7 linked regions of the Homo sapiens genome follow. The protein of the gene in region 7 purifies or fractionates together with the protein of the main gene of each other region. This does not show direct contact. Each region holds a gene or a part of one and is shown on either strand. Other genes may lie near its edges.

What was found.
Region 1: the proteins of SSH3 (region 7) and LARS1 fractionate together in Homo sapiens (co-fractionation; one large-scale study listed by BioGRID). This does not show direct contact.
Region 2: the proteins of SSH3 (region 7) and CALU purify together in Homo sapiens (affinity purification with mass spectrometry, with the first as the bait; one large-scale study listed by BioGRID). This does not show direct contact.
Region 3: the proteins of SSH3 (region 7) and KIAA0232 purify together in Homo sapiens (affinity purification with mass spectrometry; 2 studies listed by BioGRID and IntAct, with this or other methods). This does not show direct contact.
Region 4: the proteins of SSH3 (region 7) and MAIP1 purify together in Homo sapiens (affinity purification with mass spectrometry, with the first as the bait; one large-scale study listed by BioGRID). This does not show direct contact.
Region 5: the proteins of SSH3 (region 7) and BLTP3A purify together in Homo sapiens (affinity purification with mass spectrometry; one large-scale study listed by BioGRID and IntAct). This does not show direct contact.
Region 6: the proteins of SSH3 (region 7) and SLC4A1AP purify together in Homo sapiens (affinity purification with mass spectrometry; one large-scale study listed by BioGRID and IntAct). This does not show direct contact.

What each region holds. Positions count from the first base shown.
Region 1 is NC_000005.10:146,151,346-146,155,674, reverse strand, and holds part of LARS1 (leucine--tRNA ligase, cytoplasmic), read left to right. Parts: intron 1-1,694; coding exon 1,695-1,782; intron 1,783-1,864; coding exon 1,865-1,941; intron 1,942-2,447; coding exon 2,448-2,501; intron 2,502-3,672; coding exon 3,673-3,813; intron 3,814-4,329. UniProt on the Homo sapiens protein: Aminoacyl-tRNA synthetase that catalyzes the specific attachment of leucine to its cognate tRNA (tRNA(Leu)).
Region 2 is NC_000007.14:128,762,920-128,767,248, reverse strand, and holds part of CALU (calumenin isoform a precursor), read right to left. Parts: intron 1-4,329. UniProt on the Homo sapiens protein: Involved in regulation of vitamin K-dependent carboxylation of multiple N-terminal glutamate residues. Seems to inhibit gamma-carboxylase GGCX. Binds 7 calcium ions with a low affinity.
Region 3 is NC_000004.12:6,865,738-6,870,066, forward strand, and holds part of KIAA0232 (uncharacterized protein KIAA0232), read left to right. Parts: intron 1-454; coding exon of another isoform or gene 455-526; intron 527-4,329.
Region 4 is NC_000002.12:199,961,533-199,965,379, forward strand, and holds the end of MAIP1 (m-AAA protease-interacting protein 1, mitochondrial isoform 1 precursor), read left to right. Parts: intron 1-248; coding exon 249-396; intron 397-433; exon of another isoform or gene 434-575; intron 576-2,200; coding exon 2,201-2,279; 3' UTR 2,280-2,585; downstream 2,586-3,847. UniProt on the Homo sapiens protein: Promotes sorting of SMDT1/EMRE in mitochondria by ensuring its maturation.
Region 5 is NC_000006.12:34,872,083-34,875,048, forward strand, and holds part of BLTP3A (bridge-like lipid transfer protein family member 3A), read left to right. Parts: intron 1-230; coding exon 231-356; 3' UTR 357-2,966. UniProt on the Homo sapiens protein: Tube-forming lipid transport protein which probably mediates the transfer of lipids between membranes at organelle contact sites. May be involved in the retrograde traffic of vesicle clusters in the endocytic pathway to the Golgi complex.
Region 6 is NC_000002.12:27,669,945-27,674,273, forward strand, and holds part of SLC4A1AP (kanadaptin), read left to right. Parts: intron 1-4,329.
Region 7 is NC_000011.10:67,309,300-67,313,410, reverse strand, and holds the end of SSH3 (protein phosphatase Slingshot homolog 3), read right to left. Parts: intron 4,015-4,111; coding exon 3,868-4,014; intron 3,644-3,867; coding exon 3,443-3,643; intron 3,346-3,442; coding exon 3,072-3,345; intron 1,821-3,071; coding exon 1,524-1,820; 3' UTR 819-1,523; downstream 1-818. UniProt on the Homo sapiens protein: Protein phosphatase which may play a role in the regulation of actin filament dynamics. Can dephosphorylate and activate the actin binding/depolymerizing factor cofilin, which subsequently binds to actin filaments and stimulates their disassembly.

The sequences.
Region 1 (4,329 bases), on a different chromosome or scaffold from region 7:
TGACTGCAAATTCTATAAAGGCAGGTTATAAGTACATATATGAATAAAGAGGGGTGGGTGGGAATTATGTGGAAAGGAAAAGTGTGTTCCTTAGCTAGAGCAAGAAGCTGCAAATTCTTTGTTGCCATCTGAGAATTTGGGTCTAAAATTGCTTAATCTTTTGGATTTTTTCAAGTGAAATTAGAACTATCCTTTTACTTTGTCTTCATAACTACTATTTTAAATAGATGTATAGTACCCATTCTTGTTCTTGTAACATATTTTGTTAAATCATTTTTTCTATCATTGAAAGCTTTAGTTGTTTCCAGGCTTTCCTAGTATAATTAACTCAGCATTGGGTAGACTTGTTTAAGAAAAAATAATTAGTTGTTGTTGAGTCTGAGTTACATGAACATTTTGTGGCTTTTGCTGTGGATTCCTATATTTTCTTCAAGGAGTACAATGTCACAAACAATGTATTAGTGTACTCATGTCATAATATTGACAGATTTAGTTATTATAATTATTAAAAATTATTTTTCCGGGACGGGCACGGTGGCTCATGCCTGTAATGCCAGCACTTTGGGAGGCAGAGGTGCGTGGATCACCTGGGGTCAGGAGTTCAAGACCAGCCTGGCCAACATGGTGAAACCCTGTCTCTACTAAAAATACAGAAATTAGCCAGGCGTGGTGGTGCATGCCTGTAATCCCAGCTACATGGGAGGCTGAGGCAGGAATCGCTGGAACCTGGGAGGCGGAGGTTGCAGTGAGCCGAGATCATGCCATTGCACTCCAGCTTGAGTAACAAGAGCAGAACTCCATCTCAAAAAAAAAATTATTTTTCCTCTAGTAGGTATAAAATAATGTGTTTTGTTTTACTTCATATGTATTTTATTTATATTCTTTTCTTTATTTTTTGAGACGGGGTCTCCCTCTGTCACCCAGGCTGGAGTGCAGTGGCACGATCTTGGCTCACTACAACCTCCACCTCTCGGGTTCAAGCAATTCTCCCGCCTCAGCCTTCCAAATAGCTGGGACTACAGGCGCATGCCACCACGCCTGGCTAATTTTTTGTATTTTAGTAGAGACGGGGTTTCACCATGTTGCCCAGGCTGGTCGCGAACTCCTAAGCTCAGGCAATCTGCCTGCCTCAGCATCCCAAAGTGCTGGGTTTACAGGCGTTAGCCACCGCGCTCAGCCTGTATTCATTTTTTAATTGACAGAAATTGTATTTATGGTACGCAATATGTTTTGAAATATATATACATTGTGAAATGGCTAAATTGAGGTAATTAACAAATTTATACCTTACGTACTTACCATTTTCTGTGGTGAGAAGAGTTAAAATTTAAATCAGGTGCAGTGGTATGCACCTGTAGAGCCAGCTACTTGGGAGGCTGGGACCTCAGGAGGCTTGCCTGAGCCCAGGAGCTTGAGCCTGTAGAATGCTATGATAGCACCTGTGAATAGCCTCTACACTCTAGCCTTGGCAACATAGCAAGGCTCTGTCTCTTAAAAAAATCTACACAGCAATTTTCAAGTATAAAATACATTGTTATTTCCTATAGTCACCATATTGTACAATATAGCTCTTGAATTTATTTCCATATATTTTTGATTACTAGCTTCTCAGGGCTTAAAATATTAACATAGTTTTAATTCTAATGGTCACAATGAATTACTTCACCTTTTATATTGATTTTTTTCTTATGCAGGAAATTCTTGGTGCATCACTTTCTGCACCTTTAACATCATACAAGGTGATCTATGTTCTCCCAATGCTAACTATTAAGGAGGATAAAGGTAAAGAGTTTATTTATTTCTAGAAATATTTTGATAAACACATTTTGGTTCTAGTTATTAATTCCACACTTTGTTTTCTAAGGCACTGGTGTGGTTACAAGTGTTCCTTCCGACTCCCCTGATGATATTGCTGCCCTCAGAGACTTGAAGAAAAAGCAAGTAAGTATCTGAGTTTCATGTTTGTATTTCGTCCTCACCATCTCATTGCTTAGGTGCTGCTGAACTACGCTGTGGGACTAGGCTAAAAAGCTATGCATTTATCTTTAAACTGCTATCTCTAACTTGTTTCTTGATGTTAATATATTTTCTGTGGTTTGAATTTTAAATATGTTCACAGAATTTTGAAAAAGCTTTCTGATATTCACATTTTCATTGAAATCTGGCATATGAACCTCAATTTAAGTGATATGTGTATGTCTATGTACATTTTTGCTTTTGGTTGTGTGGTTTCATTTAGGCTATTCACTATAACTTTAGCTATTAAATTTTTGAAGGTTACAGATCCCTTTTGAGATATTTGGCAAAGTTAGAAAATTGCTCTCTATGGAGAGGAGAACAAATAGAAACTTTAAAGAAACTTTTAAGAAACTTTGGAGATTGCTTCTCTCAATGATTCTCCCAGTAAAGTGTTGATCATTAGTGTTAACTTGCAAATTTTTCTGTAGGCCTTACGAGCAAAATATGGAATTAGAGATGACATGGTCTTGCCATTTGAGCCGGTGAGTACATAGATAATTCAGAATATTCACATCCATCTCTTTATCAGAGAAAAAGAAGAGCTAACATGTTTTCCTTATAACAAAATTAATTGGTGGAGTATGAAAAAGAGAGTTTGCTTAAGGATTTACTCACTTTAATTTGATACCTGCTATGGTAGATAAGAGCAAAAGGAAAACTAACAAGCATTTTCTTACCACCTGGCACCTGCAGTTCTGGAACAAATAGCTTTTTAGCATCACCAATTTTATAGTAGCTTGCTTTGCTAGTGTGATCAATTTCCTGGCTTCTAAAGATAAAATTTTGCCCTTTTCATGAATGTTTATATGTAACCATAATAACTTTAACAAAGTCCTGTACAACTCTGTTTTATGTTTCTTGTATTTTCATGTTAGTATCTATAGAAGAAAAACTTTTAAATTACTAGCAAATGATTTTCATTTCATGAAAGATCCAGAGGAATTAATATAAACCAAAAGCACAACCATCCATGAATCTAGTTGTTTACATCAGCAGGCCCCAACCTTTTTGGCACCAGGGACTGGTTTTGTGGAAGACAATTTTTCCATGGACCAGCAGGGTGTGGTAGGGGAATGGTTTTGGCATGAAACTGTGCCACCTTAGATCATCAGGCATTAGATTCTCATAAGGAGCAAGCAACCTAGATCCCTCCATGCACAGTTCACAATAGGGTTCGTGCTTCTATGAGAATCTAATGCCACCCATGATCTGACAGGAGGTGAAGCTCAGGGGGTGATGCTCGCCCGTTCCTCACCTCCTGCTGTGCAGCCTGGTTCCTAATGCCATGGACTGGTACCGGTCCACATCCTTGGGGTTGGGAACCCCTGGTTTACATCATTTTGCTAGTTTCAGTATGAATTACTTAGGTAATTATATGCCAGTGGAGGATAGAGTGTTGGGAAAGGTGTGTGTGGTGGGGGAAGGGCATTGGGGGTGTTGGTACACAGAGTATGGGTGGTTCCTGTGGAGAGTAGAAGGACAAATTTACATCTGGAAGTTAGTCACTCTGTGATTACTTAATGTGTGGCAGTGTCGTAATGACATATACAATCTGAAATGACTTAATTGGACATTAGAGGCAAAAGGACTTGTGCCCTACAGAGCTGTGTGTCCAGTCAGTGTGAACACGTTCCTGATTGCTGTTTGCTGCAGGTGCCAGTCATTGAAATCCCAGGTTTTGGAAATCTTTCTGCTGTAACCATTTGTGATGAGTTGAAAATTCAGAGCCAGAATGACCGGGAAAAACTTGCAGAAGCAAAGGAGAAGATATATCTAAAAGGATTTTATGAGGGTGTAAGTAATAATTTTTTTTAGTTTTTATTTGCTTTACTCCATGCTCTGTGATTTTCTTAATTAGAAAAAATGTAGAAAAATTTAACATAGTTTCAGCTATACATTGATTTGAGAGCTTAATATGAGAATGTATTCTATTTCCAAATTTCTAATTTTTGTTTTTATCATGTCCTTTGCCTAAAAGCATTTTCAGAAATTGTCTTTTTCGTGCCCTCTAGGAATCTCTATGGAGTGAATTTCTTGACAAGATATTTCAAATTAGTTCATATTATTATGCAGTAAACTTCAAAGATTTATTGAATGGAGAATACCTGGTCCCTTCTTTTGCTCTTTTAGTTAAGGAGTTCATATTTTAGATAAGCAGTTTTATTCAGTCCATTAATTTATTTATTAATGTCTACTAAATGCCAGGTGAGTTCAACAAACATGTTCTGAACCATTCTTTTCTCCTAATTGTGCATATGTTAATGTGGTTTATATTTCCATGGAAAGAAGGCTAGGCTAGAGAACATAAAA
Region 2 (4,329 bases), on a different chromosome or scaffold from region 7:
TGATTTTAAGTCACATGAGAGCAAAGAGTTCTTATACCTTAATAAATGCAGAAATAAGAGGAGAGAGCTACCATCAAGAAAGACTTAGACTCGTTCCCTACATTTCATTTCACCCTAAGGTAGCTAATTAAACGGGACCACTTGTTTTAGAAAGGTGTAGCCAATTACTACAAAGAGTCCATTATACCAGTGGCCTTCAGTTGGGACAAGCACGCCCCTGGGGAAACAGGAACACTGTCAAGGAGTACACTGAGAAAGGTCAGTCAAGAGAGAATCAAATTCCAGATACTCAGTTCCACATATAGATTTTTCCAAAAATTGATCTTCATAAGAATGTACCTCTGGCCATCAAGGCTTTTTTCCCATCTCCCCCCTTTCACAACTGCCCTTGTCCCACTTTATAAAAGAAAGGCATATTTTCAACCATTTTGAAACTAGAGTGTAAAAAGCTCCAAGATAATGAAAAAGAAACAATTAGAAATACTAGTGTCTGGATGGGCGTGGTGGCTCACACCTGTAATTCCAGCACTTTGGGAGGCCTAGGCAGGCAGATCACCTGAGGTCGGAGTTTGAGACCAGATCACCTGAGGTCAGGAATTTGAGACCAGCCTGGCCAAAATGGCAAAACCCCATCTCTACTAAAAATACAAAAATTAGCTGAGCATGGTGGTGCGTGCCTGTAATCCCAGCTACTCGAGAGGCTGAGGCAAAAGAATCACTTGAACCCAGGAGGCAGAGGTTGCAGTGAGCCGAGATCATATCACTGCACTCTAGCCTGGGCGACAGAGCAAGACTCCGTCTCAAAAAAAAAAAAAAAAAAAAAGAAAAAGAAATACTAGTGTCAGTCTTGAGAATGCAAATGCCTGAAAAAAAATGAATAAATTCGTTTGCATGTCAAAAGGTTTTAAATTCTTTGCTTTAAAAAAAAAAACCTTGAAAAATGGCCTAATTGAGTTTTAGCTAAGGGATCATTAAACATAATTTTTGGGCTGGGTGCAGTGGCTCATGCCTGTAATCCCAGCACTTTGGGAGGCTGAGGCGGGTGGATCACTTGAGGTCAGGAGTTTGAGACCAGCATGGCCAACATGGTGAAACCCCGTCTCTACTAAAAATAAAAAATAAAATTAGCCGGGCGTGCTGGCCCACACCTGTAATCTCCAGCTACTGGGGAGGCTGAGGCAGGAGAATCGCTTGAACCCCAGAGGCAGAGGTTGCAATGAGCCGAGACCGTGCCTGTGTACTACAGCCTGGGTGAGAGAGAGAGACTCCACCTTGAAACAAACAAAACCCATAATTTTTGATGATAGATTACATGATTTCTGGCATGTAACTCAAAAGGAGTTCCAAGAACTAAGCAATATTGCTATGACAAATCTTCCATCAACTTATTTACTAATGTAAACAAGGTCTGTTAGTACTTCCTCTAAAAAATAAAAATTAGGAATTGGTGCTGAATCCCATTTCACTCTAGGGATAAGTAATTGTCATCCATGGATATGAAACTATTTGAATAAAAATGTGTCAAAGAAATGCATTTAAAAATATATAAACATAAAACGTCTGTAATAAATGTTATTTTGTTCAATTGTGTATTAATAATTGTAATAGTAACTTAACACAGAAGACTCTAAAAACACTTAAGAGCCATATCACAGAACACCATTTTCCATATTTCAATTTACATACACAATGTTCTTGCAAATAAGAATGTCAAAGTGACTAAGGCTTCAAGATAAAATATGTCAGAATATAATTCTGTTGAGGAAGTAAACTGCAAATGAATCTAACAAATAGAAGGCTGACTTGTGAGTTTGAGATCAGCCTGGACAACATGGCAAAATCCCTACAAGAAATACAAAAATTAGCCAGGCATGGCAGCATGCACCTACAGTCCCAGCTACTCGGGAGGCTGAGGCAGGAGGATGGCTTGAGCCTAGCAGATCGAGGCTGCAATGAACCATGATCATGCCACTGCACTCCAGCCTAGGTGACAGAGTGAGACCCTGTCTCAAAAAGAAAAAGAAAAAAAAGAAACAGGAGGTCGGGTGGCTGATGTCTGTAATCCCAGCACTTTGGGAGGCCAAGGCAGGTAGAGCTCTTGAGCCCAGGATTTCCAGACCAGCCTGGGCAATGTAGGGAGACCCATGTCTATAAGAATAATAATAAAAAAAATCAGCTGGGTGTGGTGGTGCTCTTCTGTGGTCCCAGCTGAGGTGAGAGGATCACTTGATCTCCCCACCTTGGAGATCGAGGCTGCTGTGATTGTGCCACTGCACACCAACATGGGCAACAGAATGAGACTCTTGTCTTTTTAAAAAAGAAGAAGAAGAAGAAACAGGATGCGTGTAAAATGTCCAAGTTGGTTAACAGTTTATTCATTTATTTTTTTAAGACAATATCATGTGGTGACTGATAAGTAGTATAAATATCCCCAAATCCCTATAAATTTAAACAAAAAAAAGGGCAATTAAGTGATGGTCACATTGTTGCTAACCAAACGCCATAACTAAAAAAAAAAAAGTACCAAAGAAACATTTCCTTTTTAACTATTATGAAATGTAAAAAATTACGGATATTTTCTTATATACCCACAATGCCACTTTCATATTTTACAAAATCAATTCCTTGGTATCATCTAATACCCAGACTGAATTTAAATTTCTTGATTATCTTTTTAAAGTTGTCGTGTCCAAATTATTCATATGAAAGACGGCAGGTAAGAAGTTGCTATGGTATCTTGTATTTAAATTTTATAGATTTCTTTCCGAATTACTTTCAAAATGTCAATGCTTATCACCAACAGAGATTATTCTTTTTTCTTCTGAGACAGGGTCTTGCTCTGTTGCCCAGGCTGGAGTGCAGTGGTACAATAACGGTGCACTGCAACCTCAAACCCTCAGGCTCAAGTGATCCTCCTGAGTTGCTGGGACTACAGGCACACGCCACCATGCCTGGCTAATTTTTTCTTTTTTTTTGTATTTTTTGTAGAGACAGGGTTGCGCCATGTTGTCCAGGTTGTTCTCAAACTCCTGGGCTCAAGTGATTCACCTGCCTCAGCCTCCCAAAGTTCTGGGATTACAGGAATGAGCTACGGCATCCGGCCCAACAGAGACTATTCTTTACAACTGTTTAAATTTCTTAATTAAATATTTCAGATGCCAACTTTAAAACACATAAGGGAATGCTGTTGGTCAAATTCTTTCAGGAGTTATTTAAGTGAACAAGTCTGAAAATGCTTGAGTTATACGACATCTAAGTTAAGTGTACCTGCATTGCATGTAAGGTATGGGAAAACACCTAAAGAGAAATCTAAATAGTTCCTGCAAGTTCTAAGCAAAGGTAATTATTTAGTCAGTGCTGCCATTTTCCTGACCTTGAGGGTTAAGGGTAGAAGTACTCCTCTGTCTTAAACTCACAAGAGAAATTCCTCACAGCAGGACTTGCCAATTTTTTCCCATGCTACAGCACATTCAGAAAATGTAGTTTGTACGGTCCACTGGATCAGGTTCCTGCCCTAGCTGTCCTGAAAGCCAAGAAGACTTACTCACAGGATACAGATTGGAAAGTTCTGAATTAGGAAATAGACACATGCTTAAAAGATATGGTTTTAAAGGAAGCTAGAATACACAATACACTACAACGTAAGCGCATTTTAAAGCTAGGTGACCATGATAAACTATTTGAATTTCTATTTTTATTTATTTTACTTTATTTTTTTGAGACAGAGTCTTGCTCTGTCGCCCAGGCTGGAGTGCAGTGGCGCGATCTCGGCTCACTGCAACCTCCGCCTCCTGGGTTCAAGCGATTCTCCTGCCTCAGCCTCCTGAGTAGCTGGGATTACACAGGCACATGCCACCACACCTGGCTAATTTTTATATTTTTAGTAGAGACGGGGTTTCACCAGGTTGGTCAGGCTGGTGTCTAACTCCTGACCTTGTGATCCGCCCACCTCAGCCTCCCAAAGTGTTGGGATTACAGGCATGAGCCACCATGCTCGGCCGAATTTCTATTTTTAAAAGACTCAGTCTATTTGATGATTTGAAGGTATTATTAATTTTCTTGGGTTGACATTATCTTTAAAAAAATGTTTTTAGAAACACATATATATTTTAGACATATATACCTCAATGTTTACAGATGAAATGACATAATGATTGGGATTTACTTCAAAGTAAGAAGGAAGCAAGGAAGTGGATGTGGCTGAGAAAAAACTGGCTGTAAGTTGATTGTTGTTGAGGTTAGGCATAGGTACATGGGGATTCATTATACTATTCTAATTTGGGGGCAGGTGCAGTGGCTCACACTTGTAATCCCAGCACTTTGGGAGGC
Region 3 (4,329 bases), on a different chromosome or scaffold from region 7:
TGAGACTTATTTCATATACCACCTCCTTCACTGACACTTTCCCTAATTCCCTCTCTCCCCTGCTCCAGCCCCACTCTGCATCAGAATTAATTTTGCCCCTCTCTTAATTTTCATGCACTTTATGCCTCTTTTTGATTGCATTTTTCATTTCTCATGAGTTATTTATATCCTGGACTATAAGCTCCTTGTGGCTGTGGACCATGCCTTACTTATTTGTCGCATCAGAGTGCCCAGGTGTGGGACTGCTTGCCTGTGATTCTAGGAAGCCCCCAGGCGACTTGAGAGGCACTGCTCTAATCAGCTACCTAGAGACCCGTAGAGGATGAATTTAATCCCATTGAAACACTGCTAAGAAAAAACCCAATAATATTGTTAGCCTTTATCTGTTTGTTTATTGCCCCATTTTTCATCCTTAAATATTCCTTTATGTACTTTGTATTTCACCTGGTTCCAGATTGGGAAGAAAGAAAAAGAGGAAAGAAGCAAGATTCTACATCATACCACTACCATATTCCTTCGCTTTCTAGTATGTTGATGTATTTATGTGTTATCAGAATTCCGGGTTTCCTTGAAAGGTCTTAGCTGCCAAAAAAATTCCCAGAGGACATTTTGGGATTGTCTGATAGTTTAGATGTTGTCAGCACTGCTCTCTCGGCAGCATTGTTATACTTTAGAAGCCAGGTTGAAGCTTACTTCATAGATTCATCTGAGATGTGCAGGAGGCTGAGTGACCTGAAGGGACAGTTTGGGGCCAGCCTGGGACTAGAACCTGTATCTTTCTGTTCTGTCACATTGCTTGGTCAGTCTGAAAGGTGCTTTTAAGAGGATGTGCTTCCGGCCCTTTTCCTGAGTCAGTACAGTCTTTTCAGGAAGCAATCTGGGAGGCCTGTTTAAAGATCAGTAGAACCCCATCTGTTTCAGACTTAGATGATGAAAATGTAGGATTTCCGATAGAACTGGTGTCTAAGAGCATGAAAATAATATGATTATTTTCAAAAGTTTAGTTCAATTCAGCAAACATTTAGTGAGTACCTGTTTACATGCCTGTTGCTAAAGTAGGTGTCCTGGATGAATAAGACTTTGTCCTTGCCCATACAGAATTCAGCGTAGTGAAGATGACCAACTTGTACCATGTTACTTATTTTAACTGAAATAGGTAATTTATTCATATGGTTCAAATTCAGAAGTTACAAGTGTATGTGTACATACACAGTGAAAGGTTTCCTCCCCAGCGGCAACCACTAGTGTGAGTTCTGATGTATTCTCCAAGGATATTTTTTGCGCGTATTAACAAGTAAATGTTCACATGTATTTCTTCCTATTTTTTCTTTTTGCTGAAATGGTACTTTATTGTAATCACCCTTCCTTTTTTTATTTTCTGCACACTATTCCATCGTATGGATATACCGTAATCTACCTAGTCAGTTCTTTATGTTTTAGGGCATTTGACCAATGCAGTTTTAGGTGCTGTAGGTAGAATGGTGGAGGGGAGCACAGAATGCTGTGGGAACCTGCAGGAGAACCCTTCCAGCCTGTGAAGGTTGAGGAAGGTTTCTTGAGCATATCTGAGTGTCCAGAGTAGAAGGACGGAGGCAGGGCAGTCCAGGCAGAAGGAACAGCAGAAGCAAGGGTAAAGAGATTTGAATCTGCTGATGTGTGCAGGGCAGCTGTGAACAGGGATCTCACGGTCTCTGGAGTATAAGCCATACGGTTAAGAGTAGCACAGATGAAGCACAGTGTGCCTTGGTATCTGGACATACATTTGTGGTGAAAATGTTCTTGTCGTTTCTTTGGTTGCCAACTTAGTACCAAGCACCTTGAGGCACAGAAAATAAGCAAAAGGCTTACTTGCTGTCTTCAGGGAATTTCAGTCCACTCAGGAGAGGAGCTCACTGTGCTGTGGAGGTCAGCAGGTCTGGAGGGACAGGAAGGCTCTGATGAGTAAAGAAGGAGTGAGGGTCAGGGGTCATGCTGGTGATGTGCCACCCGGCACATCTATGTAGAGGCTTCTGTCACCACTATCCTACTGGATGCCCATGTAGACCTCATGCGGTAGGTTATTTTCCCCACTTCTAAAGACACATAGGCTCTGAGAGGTGAGACAGCTGCCCCAGATCCCAGTGTGGGGGACAGGCAAAGCATTTTCCACCACTCTGCACCTCTGTGAACTGAGGAAGACTTAGACCAGCAGTTCTGTGTCTCTTGTTTGTCTCTGTTGCACTCAGTATCTCTTCATTGATGTTTCATTTCTTCCTTCCCAGAGAACAAGGTACATGGAAGTCTTGCTTTTCCTGGTGTGACCCAAATGAGAGCTGATTGTGGCAAAGGGGCAAGATTCCCAGAGTAAAACTAAAACCAAGCACCTTTCTCTTTACCCAAACTAGGAGTATTCTGTGAGAATTTACAGCTGTGAAGCCTTTGTTTCCTTCACCCAGCTTCCACCTTCTAAAGAATTTCTCAATTTTACATCTGTTGCTAAAAACATTTCTGGTTAGGCTTTTTGGATTAAGTTTATGTCTTCTTTTCACTGTTTCATTCATTCATCAAGTATTTCTTATGTACCTGCTCGGCCAGGTACTATTCTTGGTGCTGGGAATAAGTAACAAAGCTCTTGGTGCTGGTGGAGTCACATCCCACCTTGGGGAGCTGACAATAAACATGTTAAGTTATATAGTGTGTTACAATATAAATGCTGTTGGAAAGGAGGATCGCTGGACGAGGGGCATTGGGTTTGGGAGTGATGGCAGGAGTTTGCTGTGTTATGGGCGGTGTGAGAGCAGGCTTCCTCGCCAAGGTGCAATTTAAGGAAATACTTAGAGGTAAGAGAGTGAGCTGAGAGGATGCCTGGCAGGAAAGGGAGGGCAGCACTGAGGCCGCTGCTGTGCCTGCCTGTCCATGACAGCGACCTTCTGATCCGCTTTCAGCTTCCTCCATTGTCTCTTCATTCTTTTCATTCCCAGCCACAGCAGAAGTTGAATTAATACATTCGATGATGTATTAGATGAATATAGCATGATCCAGCCTAAAAGTTATAAATGAGTGGAGAGATGTCATAACAAGATGCATATTCCTTGAATATGTTTAGTATAAAACGGGACAAATAAGTCCCTGCCATAGGAATTGACATTCAAATGGAGGATGCAGAAAAAAGACTCCCAAATTTATGGTAGAAACTGGTGTGCCCTTCACAGTGGTTTCAGCAAGAGAGAGAAGAAATGATGTATGAGATAGTCAGAGACTGTTGGCCTGGCGGAAACTTTTCTTCACGTCAGCAGACACTGAGTATCTGCTTTGTGCGGGGCCCCATACTTGGGAATGCAAAGATGAGGAAGACGTGGTCCCGCCCCTCAGGAAGCTTACAGTCGGGTTCTGCTGGGATCTAAACTCGTCTTGGTTCATGCTGCCCCTGCTCCCAGGTTCCTGGCCCCTCTAGCCTGCTTTCCCTGACCTGTCCCATCCCCCACCATGAACTCACTCCCTTTCTTGATCTTAATCCTCAAGAAAGGATGAAAAGATAAGCAGTGTATTTAAACTGATCATTCCTGCAAAGAGCTTTTTCTTTCTCAAATAAGAACCTGTTAACCTCTAAATCCACTTATCTTCAATAGCGCCTTAGGGAGGTGATGGAGAGAGTTCTGGCTGGGGCACCTTCCTTGCTCCCCCTGAGTAGCACTAAGTAATCTCACAGGACAGGCAAGGCCTTTCTGAAGAGGTCTTAGAGTGCAGGGAATTGCATGACAGGTGCTGTTAGCCACCTTGGAAGAACTGCAGGCCTTGCGTGGTGCCACCTTGTTTGCGGGAAGCCCAGCCCTGTCCATTCCCCTGGCCCTAGCATCTGTTTATCTAATAGCAGTACCAATTTTTATTGTTAGGATAAGTTGTAGGAGAAATTAGCAAAGGTTAACTGACTGCTGTGGGTAGACAGTACAATTCTTCTTCAGTTTCTGACTTAGGAGTGTTTCCGAAAAGTTAAGTGAAAACAAAAGTTTGAAGTGTTTCCCTTTTAGTTACATAACAGACACTCATTACGGAATTGAACAGTTTTAGACCCATAAATAATTAAGTTAAAAGCATAACAAAATCCTGTTAGGAAACTGATGAAAAATTTGTTTCTAAAACACTTTAGATTTTAAACTTGAACACGTAGTGAAATGTCTTTTAAAACAATGAAGATGGGTGCAGTGTTCACAGGCCTCTCCACTAAGCAGATGTCTACTGAGAACACAGTATTAGGGGATGTGGGTGGTAGAAAGATGCAGTGGCCAAGCCTCACCCTGGGCGAGCTGGGGCAGGCTCACTCTCTCAGGCACAGTGAGGAAGGCACACTGA
Region 4 (3,847 bases), on a different chromosome or scaffold from region 7:
GTGCTCAGTTAAGTAGTAGTTTTATTACTGAGATACAGAGAAGAGGGCAAGTATGCCATAAACCCTAAGACAATTTTCTAAAAATAAAATAGTATCAATACAAGTATTTTAAGTCACATCAGAATAAGCACAAAATTTGACCTGTAACAACTGTATAACTGCTGCCAATTTCTGATTTCATTTTGTTTATATGGATGATAGATTATTTTGATTTGTATTCGTATGTGTGTATATGTTTTTTCTCTAAGGAAGGAAGTTTGTTAACATCCTGATGTGCTTTTGGTATCTAACCAGTGCCAACATCCCCAGTGAAACTTTAAGAGGAGCCAGTGTATTCCAGGTTAAGTTGGGGAATCAGAATGTGGAAACTAAACAACTTCTTAGTGCAAGCTATGAGTAAGTTTAATCAGATTTCATTGTTTCCTTTCTTCAGAAAATGGAAGGTAGTGTGAAGGTATGAAAACTAAGAGATCTTTAGGAAGAAAAGAATTGAAATTTGACAAGTTATTTATGAAGAGAAAAGGTCAGAAAGACACACTGGATATGAAACAGGAGAGTTAAGAAATTAGAAAGAGGTAAAGTTGCTGAATTTAATTAAATGATGTTTTAGCTGTCTATTGCTGCTTAACAAACTACCCCCAAATTCATTGGCTTCAAACAGCCATTGACTTTGCCTGCTATTTCACTGCTCAGAAATTTTGGATAGGCTCAGTTAGGGGGTTTTCTCTGCTTCACCTGGCATCAACACGAGTGGCAGGAGCTGGAGGATTCATTTCCACAGTGACTTCTTAACTCGCATGGGTGGCACCTTGGTACTCCTTGGCTTCTGCATGACTCTGTATTCTCCAGGGCCACTCTTTGTGGCTTGGACTTGTGGTAGTTTCAGACTAGTCATATCTTTCATATAGTGGTTGAATTCTAGGAGGCAGAAAATGGAAGCTGCTAAACCAGTAAAGGGCTATGCCCAGAATTAGAACATCAGTTCTGCCATAGTCTACTTGTCAAAGCAGTCAAAGGATCTGTATAGTTTAAAGGGTGTAGAAAGACTCCCCCATTTTTTGGGGCAAAAACCAGCAAGGCCACATAGCAGAAGAGCACATGGGAGGGGAGATATGGTTGTGGTCATTTTTGGAAAATAAAATCTGCCATAATTGGTACATGAACAATTTATTCACTAGACATCTGTTGGTCATCTGTGTGCCCACATGCTCTGGTAGAGGTTCAGATACAAAGTTGAAGGGATACTGCCCTTAAGCACATACTGTATAGTAGGAAGTTAGCAAGTTACGTAAAAGAGACATTATATTGTATTTTTATGCGAATAAAATCTAGAACAGTGAACTGCTGGAGCAAGTCAGTGAAGATATAATTTAACATTTATTAAAAAAATATGTTGCCAGAGTTACACAAATCTGCTTCAAAATAACAAACCCCAAAAATGACCTAAGAAATAAAATGTATTCTGTTTTACTAAGGTAAAAGAGAATTATATCCTCATTTTTTTTTTGCTCTTCTTAAAAGAAATGTGTTTTTTTAAATTTTGCTTTATTTGTAATTACCCAAAATATTCTATATATTTAAATACTTAATTTAAATCTACTGAATTGCCTGTTAAGAAATAATTTTTAAAGAGCACTGTCGTCAATACTAAACTTTATCTTTTCTGATGTTTCTTACTAAGACTATGGGTACTTCATAAACATTGTTATTTTCAAGATTGATTTAATGTATGTAAACTAAATTCCACTATTTATTCCTAAATTGGTAACAGTGCTATTTGAAAAATAGCTTTTTGCCTGTATCCTAGGTTATGTATTTAAAGTGCTGTTTGCATCACCAGAGTCCAGTTTATCTGTCCTCATATTAGGCATGTGTTATAGCTAGTATTTAACACATACTAGCTATATGTGTTATTTATATAACACATATATCCAAGTTTCTCTTAGGGGCTGGTAGATGTTGAATATAGATTAGTCCATTAAAAATACTTACATTACTTGAGAATGTACTTCAATTTTGTGGGTATATTTATTGTGATTGAATGGGTAGGTTAAACTTTTTTTTGTTTTGATTTTGATTTAATATTAACCATTATCTTGTTGCCAAAAATTCTTCTAAATATACACTTGCAAATTACATAGTTATCTAACACATACTTGGACTGATGTAAGATTTACATTATTTGCAATGTCTTTCCTAGGTTTCAGAGGGAGTTCACACAAGGAGTAAAGCCTGACTGGACCATTGCACGGATTGAACACTCAAAATTATTAGAATAATTTTCTTGGAAAAATCAGCTTATGGACTTTAGCAGTTGCTGTGAAAAACTAAGGAAGAAAAATTTTGGGGTCATTTGATCTTCACTTAATCTAAGTCTGTGAATTACTTTTATATTATTTTGAAATACTCCTTGCAGTATATTGGCATGATACAGTAAAAGCATTTTCCACAGATTGTTATCACCTTCTTTAAAAGAAGTCAAAATTTAAAAAATACAATAGCACGTTGTTGGTGTCATATTCAATAACATTTCCAATGCTACATATAATTTTATAGACATAATAAAGAAGGTATTGAAAAAACTACTTACAAATTTCTTTATATATTTTTTAAATTGTTTGAGAAACAGGGTCTTGCTCTGTCTCCCTGGATGAAGTCCAGTGGCATGATCATAGTTCACTGTAACGTCGAGCTCCTGGGCTTGAGCGATCCCCCTGCCTCAGCCTTCAGAGTAGCTGGGACTACAGGCATCCACCAGCATGGCTGGCTAATTTTAAAAAATTTTTATAGAGATTTCACTATGTTGCCCAGCTGGTCTTGAACTCCTCAAGTGGTTCTGCCTCGGCCTCCCAAAGAGCTAGGATTATAGGCATGAGCCACTGCACCCAGCCTACTTACACATTTCTAAATTAATAGTTCTTAAATATTTTATTTGTGGCTAATACATTTACACTTTTTTTTTTGACGGAGTCTCCCTCTGTTGCCCAGGCTGGAGTATAGTGGTATGATCTCAGTTCACTGCAACCTCCACCTCCTGGGTTGAAGCAATTCTCCTGCCTCAGCCTCCCTTGTAGCTGGGACTACAGGTGTGCACCACCATGCCCAGCTAATTTTTTTTTGTATTTTTAGTAGAGACAGGGTTTCACCATGTTAGCCAGGCTGGTCTCGAACTCCTGACCTCAGGCAATCCGCCCGTCTCGGCCTCCCAAAGTGCCGAGATTACAGGCGTGAGCCACTGTGCCTGGCCTTATACCTTTATTTTAAGTATGTGTAAGATTTATTCATTTATTTTTTAATCACTGCTGCTATTTGGCCTCTTTGGTCACTAGCTAGGTAAGAAGGAATAGATGAAATTATAGCAGATAGGTCTCTACAGAACTGAAAATCAGTGAATTTAAAAGCATGCTAAGATACAAAGAGAGAGAAAAAAACAGGACAGTGTCTTAGCCACCTATGGGATAATATCAACTATTCTAATATACTTGTATTTTGTGTCCTAGAAGTTGGAGTAGTGGAAACAAAAATAGTATGTTAAGAAATAATGGCTGAAAAGTGTCCTAGTTGATGAAAACTATAAGCCCACAGATTACAAGAAATTCAACAAACAAGGTAACACAGAGAAAAAAGTCTGATCAAGGTACATCATAATGAAATTGTTGAAAACCAGAGAAAGTTGCAAAAGCAGCTGGAGGAAAAAAATAAAGGTACATTCATGCAGAGAAACCAAGATAAGAATAGCTACCTATTTTTCTTAAACAGCAAGTTAGAGACCTTGGCATGCTATCTTAAAAGTGCTGAAAAAATAACCGGTTTACCTAGAATTTGATATTCAGCAGAAATCTTCAAA
Region 5 (2,966 bases), on a different chromosome or scaffold from region 7:
ACTAGAGGATAAATGTCAGGAGCTGGAGACGAATGGTTGCTGAGGACATACTGCACCTGCCAATGAACTATGAAGAGGGAATCAAGGTCTTAGAAAAGATATGGTTATCTTAATCATTGACATAACTTGTGGATTTTTCTCCTTGAACTCTTCCTCCCTGTTCCCTTTACTGGCGGTTGTTGCAAGATGGTATTACCGTATTTAACTGTTAACTACTTATTGTTCCTCAGGTGAAAGAACTGCCTATCCTACAAAAAGAACTTATAGAAACTAAACAAGCCTTGGCCAATGCCAACCAGGATAAAGAAAAACTTCTTCAGGAGATTAGGAAATATAACCCCTTCTTTGAGCTCTGAAACCAGTGGCTCAGCCATCTGTGCCAAGGAGAGAGGCTATCACCAGCAATAGCACCACCTAGGACAGAGGGCACTGTCCAGTGCTGAATAAGTCACTACGGATGCCAGAGGGACTGGGGAGCACTCACTTCACTTGTGTGGGTGTGCTTTCCACTAGCTGTTCTTACTTGGACTGAGGACAAGGGCAAAGCATGATTGTATCCCAGGAAACTGGGGCTTGCCCTGTGTGTGGCACAAGCATCATGTCTTGCCTGTATAAAGCCTTTTGGTCCTCTGTGTACTAGGTGGAATCTTCTCAACACTGTAGGGCCATTTCACCTCATGGTTTCATGGCAGGGACATTTGCTTCCTTCACAGGCCTGTGTGAACAAGCAAAAGTACCCACCTCCTCGGTCACCCACAGAGCCACCAAAGATTCCATGTCCCAGAGCTTCCCATAGCAGACCTGAAAAGTCCATGACCTGAGCTTTGGCCATGGTAGTGGAGTGGAACAGGAAATAGTCCAGCAGAGGAGTGTGGGGGAAGGGGGCAGGAGAGGCACAAGAATAAGGGAGACCTGGACTCTGCCTTTTTGGGAAAAGGAACCAAGCTCATAGCAATTTGGCTGATAACACAATCAGATTTTTCCAGGTTAAGCTTCCTTTCTGTTATACTTTCATCATTGTGATGCTGTGGTAGAAAGTAAATAACAGTAGTGGCTCAGTCATTTAATCTTTCCCCTCTATAATACAACTTACTTGAAATTTAAATCAAGAAAAAATTTCTGACGCTGAGCTAGGTTGGTGGCATGATATGCCAGGGGTCAGTGGGGGAGCTTGCTTCTGAGCCCCCTGTTGTCCGCCTGGAGTCCTGCTTGTCTTTCCCAGCTGTGCTGAGTGGCTCTTCTGTCTCCCTGGGGTCCCTGGCACATCTGCTTTCCCAGCTCTGTGACCTTACCAGTTCTCTCCTCAGCCCTTGGTGGTTTGGGAGCTGAATATATGTTTTAAACTTTTACATAAACAACTCAACCTGTTGCCTCTCACTTCCCTCCATCACTGTGGCTTTTAAAACTCATGTATTTTGACTCAAGTGAAAAAAACACAAAAATCCCTCATCCCAGCTAGGTTTTGCCCCCTGCCCTATAAGAGAGCTATTTCCCCCTTTCTTTCCTTTGAATTCTTCTCCAACACCATCCCTTCATTCATACTGCCCTGTGATACACTTGAAGCTGTGTTGATTGGACAGACGTTCATCAGCTAACTTACCTTTACTTGGCAAGATGGTAAAATAGTAACTTAGTGATGTTACTAAAGTCTCGACCATTCACCTTTCCATACTGAAGGAAAGGTAAAAAGGTTTCTTCTATGGGAAATTATGCTTGACTTGCATACTCTAGTTTGATGAGGATAAAAAGAAACATGTAATTGCAGTGGTGTTTACAACTAATTGATCACAACCAATCATAGATTTCTTTGTTCCTTCTCCACTCTCAACACTTCATTTGACTAGAAAAAAAAAATGTATTCACCAAGGAACAGGACCCAATTTGTTCAGACTTTTGTTAAGTTTCTTTACTAAGGCAATTTTTGAAACACCAGTTACTATGGGATGGTGGGAATTTTTCATGCTTAAGAAATAGAGACTTAGGAACAAAGAAACATCTTTCTGGAGAAGATGCTAATGGGAAGTTACCTAAGGCTTGATGCTTGGTTCAACCTTATTTAAAATTTTTATAAATGACCTGAAAGTAGGATTTTACAGTGAAATCAAATGTCACTACTTCCAGGCAGTGAAAGGTAATCTAGAAGAGGTTTAAAAAACACAAAACCGGTCGGGCACAGCGGCTCACGCCTGTAATCCCAGCACTTTGGGAGGCCGAGGCGGGGAGATCACGAGTTCAGGAGATCGAGACCATCCTGGCCAACATGGTGAAACTTTGTTTCCACTAAAAATACAAAAATTAGCTGGGTGTGGTGGTGGGTGCCTGTAGTTCCAGCCACTCGGGAGGCTGAAGCAGGAGAATCGCTTGAACCCGGGAGGCAGAGGTTGCAGTGAGCCGAGATAGCGCCATTGCACTCCAGCCTGTCAACAGAGTGAGACTCCGTCTCACAACAAACAAACAAACACAAAACCACAGAAGGGTTACTAATAAGCAGGGCTGAGAATACTCAGAAAACTGACAGGTGAGGTTCAACATAATATAAGGAAATGTATTTATGGAAGAATTATCAACTGATATGCCTGAACACTGTTAGAACTCAGGAAAGAAACAAGCATTGCTGAGGGGGAGGAGAGATCAATGTGCTGCTGTGGCCAAAAGCCTAATTGCCCTGTGGGCATCATCAGGAAGGGCTTTTGGAGATAACAGAGAACAGCACTTTATACAAAACCATGGATATGTCTTGATCGGATTATCTGTGTTTCTAGTGACCTTATTTACAAGATATATGATAAAGGGAGGAAAGGTCCAGAGAACAGCCAAAATTATCAGGGGATGGAGGTATATCCATATGAGGACACATTTTTAAAATATAGACTCTATCCTGCAAAGATGAAAGCAGAGGGGAGTTAGATCAAATATCCAATCAAGAGCAAGGACCCGGTCCTGTACTACTAGCTCTAGGGCTCTAT
Region 6 (4,329 bases), on a different chromosome or scaffold from region 7:
CCTCTGCCTCCCGGGTTCAAGCGATTCTCCTGCCTCAGCCTCCCAAGTAGCTGGGATTACAGGCATGCACCACCATGCCTGGCTCATTTTGTATTTTTAGTAGAGACGGGGTTTCTCCATGTTGGTTAGGCTGGTCTCGAACTCCCAACCTCAGGTGATCCACCTGCCTCGGCCTCCCAAAGTGCTGGGATTACAGGCATGAGCCACCGCACCTGGCCAATTTTTGTATTTTTGATAGAGACGAGGTTTCACCGTGTTGACCAGGCTGGTCTCGAACTCCTGACCTCAGGTGATCCACCCGCCTTGGCCTCCCAAAGTGCTGGGATTACAGGCATGAGCCACTGCGCCTGGCCGTATCACGAATATTACATCAATACATTAATATGTATCAATACATTAATTGTGTATTTTGCTTTTTTTTTTTTAAAGTCTGAGTAGAGCATCATTTATTAATAAGGCTTATATTATATTTTTATTATTGCAAAGTAACTTATGTCTGGTTCAAAACTACCAAAAGGCTTATAATAAAATATACTTGTTCCTTGCCCTACCCATCCTCAGTCTTCTTCCCTAAAGGCTTTCAGTTTTTTCAGTTATTTATTCTGGCATTTAAAAACACCTGTATTTCTTGGCCGGGCGCGGTTGCTCACGCCTGTAATCCCAGCACTTTGGGAGGCCAAGGCAGGCGGATCACGAGGTCAGGAGATCGAGACCATCCTGGCTAACACGGTGAAACCCCGTCTCTACCAAAAATACAAAAAAAAAAATCAGTTGGGTGTGGTGGCAGGTGCCTGTAGTCCCGGCCACTTGGGAGGCTGAGGCAGGAGAATGGCGTGAACCCAGGAGGCAGAGTTTTCATTGAGCCGAGATCGCGCCACTGCACTGCAGCCTGGGTGACAGAGCAAGACTCCGTCTCAAAAATAAATAATTAATTAAATTTAAAAAAAAACAACAAACACCTGTATTTCTTTTCTTTTCTTTTTTTTTTTTTTTTTTTGAGATGGAGTCTCACTCTGTCACCCAGACTGGAGTGCAGTGGCATGATCTTGGCTCACTGCAACCTCTGCTTCTCGGGTTCAAGTGATTCTTCTGCCTCAGCCTCCTGAGTAGCTGGGACTATAGGTGCGTGCTCCACACCCAGCTAATTTTTGTATTTTTAGTAGAGACAGGGTTTTACCATATTGGCCAGGCTGGTGTCGAACTCCTGACCTCATGATCCGCCTGCCTTGGCCTCCCAAAGTGCTGGGATTACAGGCGTGAGCCACTGCGCCCAGCCTAAAAACACCTGTATTTCTAAGAACAAGAGTATGGTGTTATATTTTTAGTCACTTATTTTAGACGTTACCTGTCGACTCTGCTAAATTAGTATTTAGTATTTACGTGATTATGCTTATGCAAATATTAGTTATAACTGAGCAGTTTTATTTCTTTTTGTTTTTCCTAAGGGTAATAATTGCGTTTGCTTTTCATGTGTTTGGGGCTTTTTTGTATTTCTTGCTCATTCCTCCCACACCTTTCAGTAGCCTCACCACATCAAACAACTTAATGATTAAGTAATTTATCAGTTCTGATTTGTTTTGGAGACACTTTTTCTGAAGAGCACTATTTTTCTTTCAGGGCTTATTGCTCTGCAGATCTGCTACAGAACTGTCACCTGGGACTTAACTTTCCTATCATCCTTAAGATTTCTTTGTCCTTTCTCCAGGGTTGACTTTTCTGTTTCTTGATTCTCATATTCTCATATTTCTTGGTTTATTTCCTTGCACAGTAGTACATCCTTCTGTACTTTTAGCAGATTAAAAAGCTGGTACAACACTAGAGGGCATGGGTGATGATAGTCTTCAATGAATTTCACATCTTTCCTTTTCTTGGTCTACTCTCTTGTTTTGGTGGACATCCTCTAGTAGATTTCAGAGAAAGAGTGTATAGGAAATAAATTTTATTAATCCTTCTCTTCTGAAAATATAATTATTGTAGCTTCACTCCTGATTAATAGTTTGGCTGGGAATACAATTCTAAGTTGGAAACAATTTTTCTTATTTTACATTCAGTGTTGCTTTTGAGAAATCCTAAACTGTTCAGATTTTGATCCTATTGTATGTCATCTTTTTTTTCCGCCTTGCCAGAGCTTGTAAGAGTTTCCCTTTGTTCTAAAGGTTCTAAAACTATGAAGTACTTTTCTGTGGGTCTATTTTTCTTCATTTTTCTGGGTACTTGTTGGATCCTTTTGATCTAGAAACCTTGGCTGTTCAGGAAGTTTTCTGCAATTATGTCATTAATTGTTTCGTCCCTCTGTTTTCTATGGAATTTTATTATTCAGACATTGGACCTCTTGGACAGACCATTTAAGTTTTTTTTCTTCTTTTTTTCATCTGTATGTCTTTTCCTTCTTGAGAGATTTCTGCACCTTTATCTTTCTGTCTTCTCTATTTTGCCATCAAGGTTTTAATTTCTTTCTCTTTTTTTAAAGTTTTTAAAATCAGGCAGTCTTTCATGCCAGAGAAGGCTCAGAGACTCCAAGGTTTTAATTTCTAAAAGTTCATTTTTGGTTTTTGAATTGTCCTTTTTAAAACATAATATCCTCTTGTTTCATGGGTTGTAAATATCTCCTCTCTGTTTTCTCCATGTTATTTTTCTTTTTATGTGGTCTCTGTTCTGCATGTTAAAGGCTTTTCTTAGGTGTCATGTAATTCTTCATTGTAGTTTTTTTATTTGGGGATGAAAAAGGTGATTGACAGTTTGGAATATATAGGTGGGGTTTCTGCATGGAATATATAGGTGGGGTTTGTTGACTTTGAGCAGTACTATTGAATGATGTGGGTGGGCCTTTTGTTGGGGAACCCTTGATTTAAGTATCCTTTTGGTTTTCCTCGTCTGTGAGCGAGATTCCCCAGAGAGTGCTCTTCCAATCTCCTGCCTGAAACGAAAGGACTGGCTGCCAGCATTCCTAGAGCTAAGTGGTAGAAGGTGGCTGAGTGGCTTCTCATTCAGCTGTTTTCAGGACAGTACTATTTTTAGATTATAGTGCCCATGCCTTCAACTTTACTAGTCAACTCGTAATCCAAAGGCTTTCTGTTTTACCCTTTCCAGAGATTAACCTCTGGATTTCTACTGCAGATGGAAAGGAGATGAGTAGGCAGGGAGGAAGATCTATTTCTCAACCAGTTTTTACTTAGTCCTCCATAACCTTAGTATCCATCCCCAGTTGCAGATCCGTTTGAGGATTCTGCAGTGTAATCACTTTGGCTCTCAGCTTTCCCCACTGTTTAGGATTTATCTTTTTAAATTCTGCTAAGTTAGTTTCTACTCATCTGTCTACTTTCTAATTTTCTAAAATTTGGGTCTTTATGAATTTCTTTCTCTCTCTCTCTCTCTCTCTCTTTCTTTTCTTTCTTTCTTTCTTTTTCTTTTCCTCCTTTCCCTCCCTTCTCTTTTTTCCTTTCCTTTCCCTTACTTTCCCTCCCTCCCTCCCTCCCTCCCTCCCTCCCTCCCTCCCTCCCTTCCTTCCTTCCTTCCTTCTTTCCTTCCTCCCTTCCTTCCTTCTCTTTCCTCTATGCTGCCCAGATTGGAGTGCAGTGGTCTGATCACAGCTCACTGCAGCATCAACTTCCGGGGCTCAAGCGATCCTCCCGCCTCAGCCTCCTAAGTAGCTGGGACTACAGGTGCACACCACCATGCCCAGCTACTTTTTTTAGATTTATTTTTAGTAAAGGCAAGGTCTTGCTATGTTGCCCAGGCGTGGGTACATCTCTTTACTATGGTTTATTGGGATTTAGGGAAAGAGGGAAATTAGATATGTGTGTTTAATGTACCATCTTAACCTGCAAATTAGGCTTATATTAATAAGGACTATTTTCCTTGCAAATAATAGAAGTCCAATTCAAACTAGCTTAGGGGAAAGGTCATTGGCTGCAGAAGCTGGGAAGAATAGCTCAGGATGAAGGAACAGGAGTGAAGGAACAACTGCATGAACCAGAACCTCAAGTTCTGAAACCATAACTTAGTACTACCAAAGTAGACTCAGCATCACCAGGACATATACAAGTTGTGTGTGTGTGTGTGTGTGTGTGTGTGTGTGTGTGTGTGTCTGTGAGTGAGTCTGTCTCACGAGTGCATTTTTAAACTTTGCAGACAGATTCTTACCCTGTGCTGAAAAGCTGATTGCTTACAGCCCTGAACTTAACAGTCTCTCACTTTAATAACCTCATTGTAAAGAGAGCCTCTTTGCCCCATCTCTAAATATAAATATGAGGGAAAGAGTCTTACTGATTTGGCTTTGGTCCTATGACTATCCCTAAACCAGATAAAATGGGGGAGGAATTTTCTAGG
Region 7 (4,111 bases):
ACTCTATTCTGGGTGACAGAGCAAGACCCTGTCTCAAAAAAAAAAAGGAAGTGACAAAGATACAACCACTTAGCTAGGTGTGCCTGTGGTCCCAGCTACTCAGGAGGCTGAAGTGAGAGGGTCTCTTCAGCCTGGGAATTCAAGGCTGCACTGAGGCATGATCGTGCCGCTGCACTCCAGCCTGGGCAACAGAACCAGACTCTGTCTCAAAAAAAGAAAAAAAAAGATGGAATGACTAACTCTTCTTGGACACTAAAGTTGAGCAGAAGGAACCCCTGGGCAGGAGGGGAAGTGTCACCAAGGGTCCTTCTTCCCAGGCCGCAATAGCCTGGCTTGGAAAGTCAGGCCCTTTGCTTTGTAGCAGGAGGAAGGTGATTCTTGGGACCCAAAACATGCCAGAGAACCTGGCGCCGAGTGTCCCAAGGAGGCTTCGCTTTTGGAACAGGCTTGGTCCTGTCCAGGTAGGCACTTCCTCATGAGTAACCCCTTCCAGCTCTCACAGTGGAGCCACATGCCTGCTGCCCGCTGACGACTTCTTCCCTTGCCCGACCTGTCTGAGCGGGTGGGTGTGAGCAGGTCATATTTACCAGGCCCTGCCCCAGGAGATGGGGAGATAGCACTGACTTCCTCTCTTCTCTTACCCAATCTTCCTCCCACGCCACGCCCAAACACGGCACTCCCCCAAATAGGTCTGTCACGAGCCACCTTGGAATTGTGAGGAGACTGCTGGGAGGAAGGGGCGGCCACCTTCCCCAGCCAGCAGAGAAGGGTCTGACTGCAACACAGATGGCTTCATCGTCACATTGAAAATAACCAAATATGAAAATGTGTTTTATTTCTCAGTACAAAGCCAGATACTGTAAGGCTATGAAAAACTGACTAGCCAGAGGCCAGAAAGGACAAAAAGAAGACTATCTCTGGCCTGGTGCCCTGTGATCTGGCGTGGTGTCACAGGAGGTCTGGGGACAGCAGCAAAGACCTGGACCGGTGGAGGTGGATGAGGGAAGCGATCTGCCAGCCCTTCCAGCCTCCCGCGGCTGGGGCCTGAGGATCCTGCCTGCCTTTGGGGGCCACTGGTTGCCTGGCCTGGCTGGTTCCAGGAATGAACTGGGAGAGGACAGGAGGTGCAGGGAGGGGGCGGGGGTGGGAGGCGTGACCCTTTTTGCACGGGAAGCTCTGTTTTCATTCCGTGCCACAGGTGAGTGTGCAGGGCTAGAGTTGAGAATGAAACTAGGGTGCTGTTGCCCCCAAAGGTACCTTCAGTCCCTCTACCACATCCCAGTTAGAAAGTCTTGAGCCCTTGGACAGGCAGACATGGGCCTGGGACTTAAGGCTGTAGGAGGTGAGGCTGTAGTGACAGGGGTGGGAGGTGAGGCCGTAGTGACAGGGGTGGGAGGTGAGGCTGTAGTGACGGGTATGGGGCGGAGCTGAGAGGAATGTGTGCGGCAACAGACGTGAGGGTGTTTCTCCAAGGAGTTGTGGATCCTCTTCAGTGTCAGGGGAGCGTGGGCATGTGTGAGGGCTCAGGCCTCGCCCTCCTCTCCACTGTCATGCACGCTGGCCTGTCTCACCACCTTCCGGAACCTGGGCGTAGAGGAAATGCAGGGCTCTCCCTGCCCCTGCCCCTGCCCCTGCTCCTGCTCCTGGAAGGCCTGGGTCCGGTTGGCCACCACGGCACTGCCCTGGAGGGTAACCACTGACTGGCGGGACTTCAGGGCAGGCTGAGGCCCCCTGTCCACCTGCTGGCCTCCCTTGGTCCTTGCAAGCTGTGGGAAGGGCTGCAGAGGCTCTTCATGTGAAGACTCGTGGGAAGAGAAGACCTGGACAGGTGTGAGGATACGGAAGCCATGGGAGGCCTTTCTGGGGCAGGGGTGCCCAAGCACAGAGCCGGGAAGATCTGGGGCAGGGGTGCCAAGCACAGAGCCAGGAGGAGGCGAGGGCCGGAATGTTTGTGGCACGCACGCCAAAAGCCAAGCTGTCCACAGCCACGCTTCCTCGGGAGGGAGGACAACACCCCAGCCCTGCTGCCCCGCTCCTTGAACCCTACCTGCTTGTAGCTTCCTTCTGGCCCCCAGAAGCCCTCCTCAGCTCCCTGGAGACCCAGGCCTCCCTGCCCTCCTCCCCTCCTATGCTTTCTCTGCCTTTGCGTAGGCAGCCGGCAGGTGAAACCCGTGCCGGCACCAGCCCCTGAGCTGGGCTGGGTGGATGCGTGCGTCCGGTGCTGGGTGAGGACCTCTTGCCTTTAGCAACGCCCACACCCGCCCATCAACCCACCACGCCTCCCTATCCTTCCCCACCCACACCTCCTCCAGGAAGCCTCTCCCAAATGTTCCTGCCCTCAGTGGATGCTCCTTCCTCCAAGTCAGCCATTTGGCCTTGAGTCCCAGACAGGGCCTGGCTCCCAGGCTTAGGCTTGTGCCCGCAGCACTGAGCATCAAGGGTGCTGACTTAGGCAGGACTTGGGCGGCGTGAGTGCGCAGACTCCTCCCCACCCCATCCTTTGAGGTGCTGCTCCTCAGACCAGGGAGGGGCTTCAGAGATTAATTTAGCCTCCCCACCATGGGGTTAGAGATCGCCCCCAGGGCCTGCAGGGGCCTGTGGAGCTCATGGCCTGGGGAGGCAGCCCTGCCCCTGAGACAGCTAGTCCTGTGGTCAGGCTGGAACCTGCCCGCGATCGAGGCTGGGGCTGGCTCACCCAGGAGCCTTGGAAACAGGCACTGCTTCCTGCCCTGCCCCCGTGACCCCTCTCCAGCCTGTGCCTACAGTGCCTCCGCCTGCCCTCACTGGATCTCAGCTGCTCTCAGGGGCCCAGGACGTGGCTGGTCCCCATCTTCAGGGGTATTCATGGGACAGGCTGGAGACGCCGGGTGCTAAGAGATACTGGGCTGACTGTGAAGGAGGCTGGGACCAGGCCCCCTGGGTCCTCCCAGGACACCCTGCATGGGCGGGCCAGACTTAGCCCGGGTACGCCCTGCTCAGGTCTACAGTCAAACGCCCATCCTGGTCTTTCCCCATCTCCCTCCTTATGGCCCCCACCCCTGCAAGCTGAGCTCCCCCAGCCCCAGCCTCACCTCTGGCATGTCACTGGTCTCTGAGGTGCTCTCCAGCTCCAAGGAGGGCTCCAGAAGACTGATGGACCTCATGACCCCTCGGAGGTTTATACGTGGCCGTGGCCCAGGCTCTTCTTTCGGGGCTGCCTGGCTCTCTTCCATGCCTACAACCTTCTCCTCCCCACCACCCTCAGGTTCTGGCGGAAGAGGTGGGAATGGTGTAGAGACTTCAGGGGCTGGGTGCTCCTCTGGGGAGACCCCACCCACTTTCTGCTCCCAGACATGGCTCTGGCGGCTGTGAGGAGGTGGCCCTGAGTCAGCTCTGAGTGACCCAGCAGCCACCCCCAGCAAACCCACCTACTCACCCCCTGCCACTCGCTCCCATCCCATACCTGGCCGTCAGGATGCCCTGGTAGATCTGCAGCTGGCGCAGGAAGCCAGGGTTGGGGCGGGCGATGGGCCGGAGCTCCTGCACGTGGCGCAGGGCCTGCTCCAGGCTGCATTCGTACTGCTTCATGGCATAGGCCAGCACTGTGGCCGCTGAGCGGCTGACGCCCATCTTGCAGTGGACCAGCACGTGGGTGCCCTGTGCTCTGTGGAAGCAGGCCAGGTTCAGCACCCTCCCCTCACCATGAAGGATCCCGCCTCCTGCAGGGGAGGGCAGGTGAAGGGCTCACAACCAACTGAGAGTAGAGAAGGAGGGAAGGACACTGAGGGCTGGAAGGAATGGCACAGCTGATGGCAGAGTGGGCAGGAGGAGGGCACCGGAGGCCGCTTGAAGCCACAGTGGGGCAGGCAGCAAAGCCAGGAGACCGACCTTGCAGCCTCAATGAAGCGGTGCGTCTCCTTCCAGTGCGGCAGCAGCTGGGCCGACTCCTCATCCCAGAGGCGCACATTGTGGTAGGTGAAGCGCTCAGGGTAGAAGTTGTCAATCTCCCGGGCCATGTTCAAGATGTGGGTGACCCTGTCCCAGAGGGCCCAAGGCCAGGCTGATGTGGGCAGAGGTACCAGGCCCACTGGCAATCGGACCTGGCAGCCCCTGGGCCTCGCTTTAGCTCTGA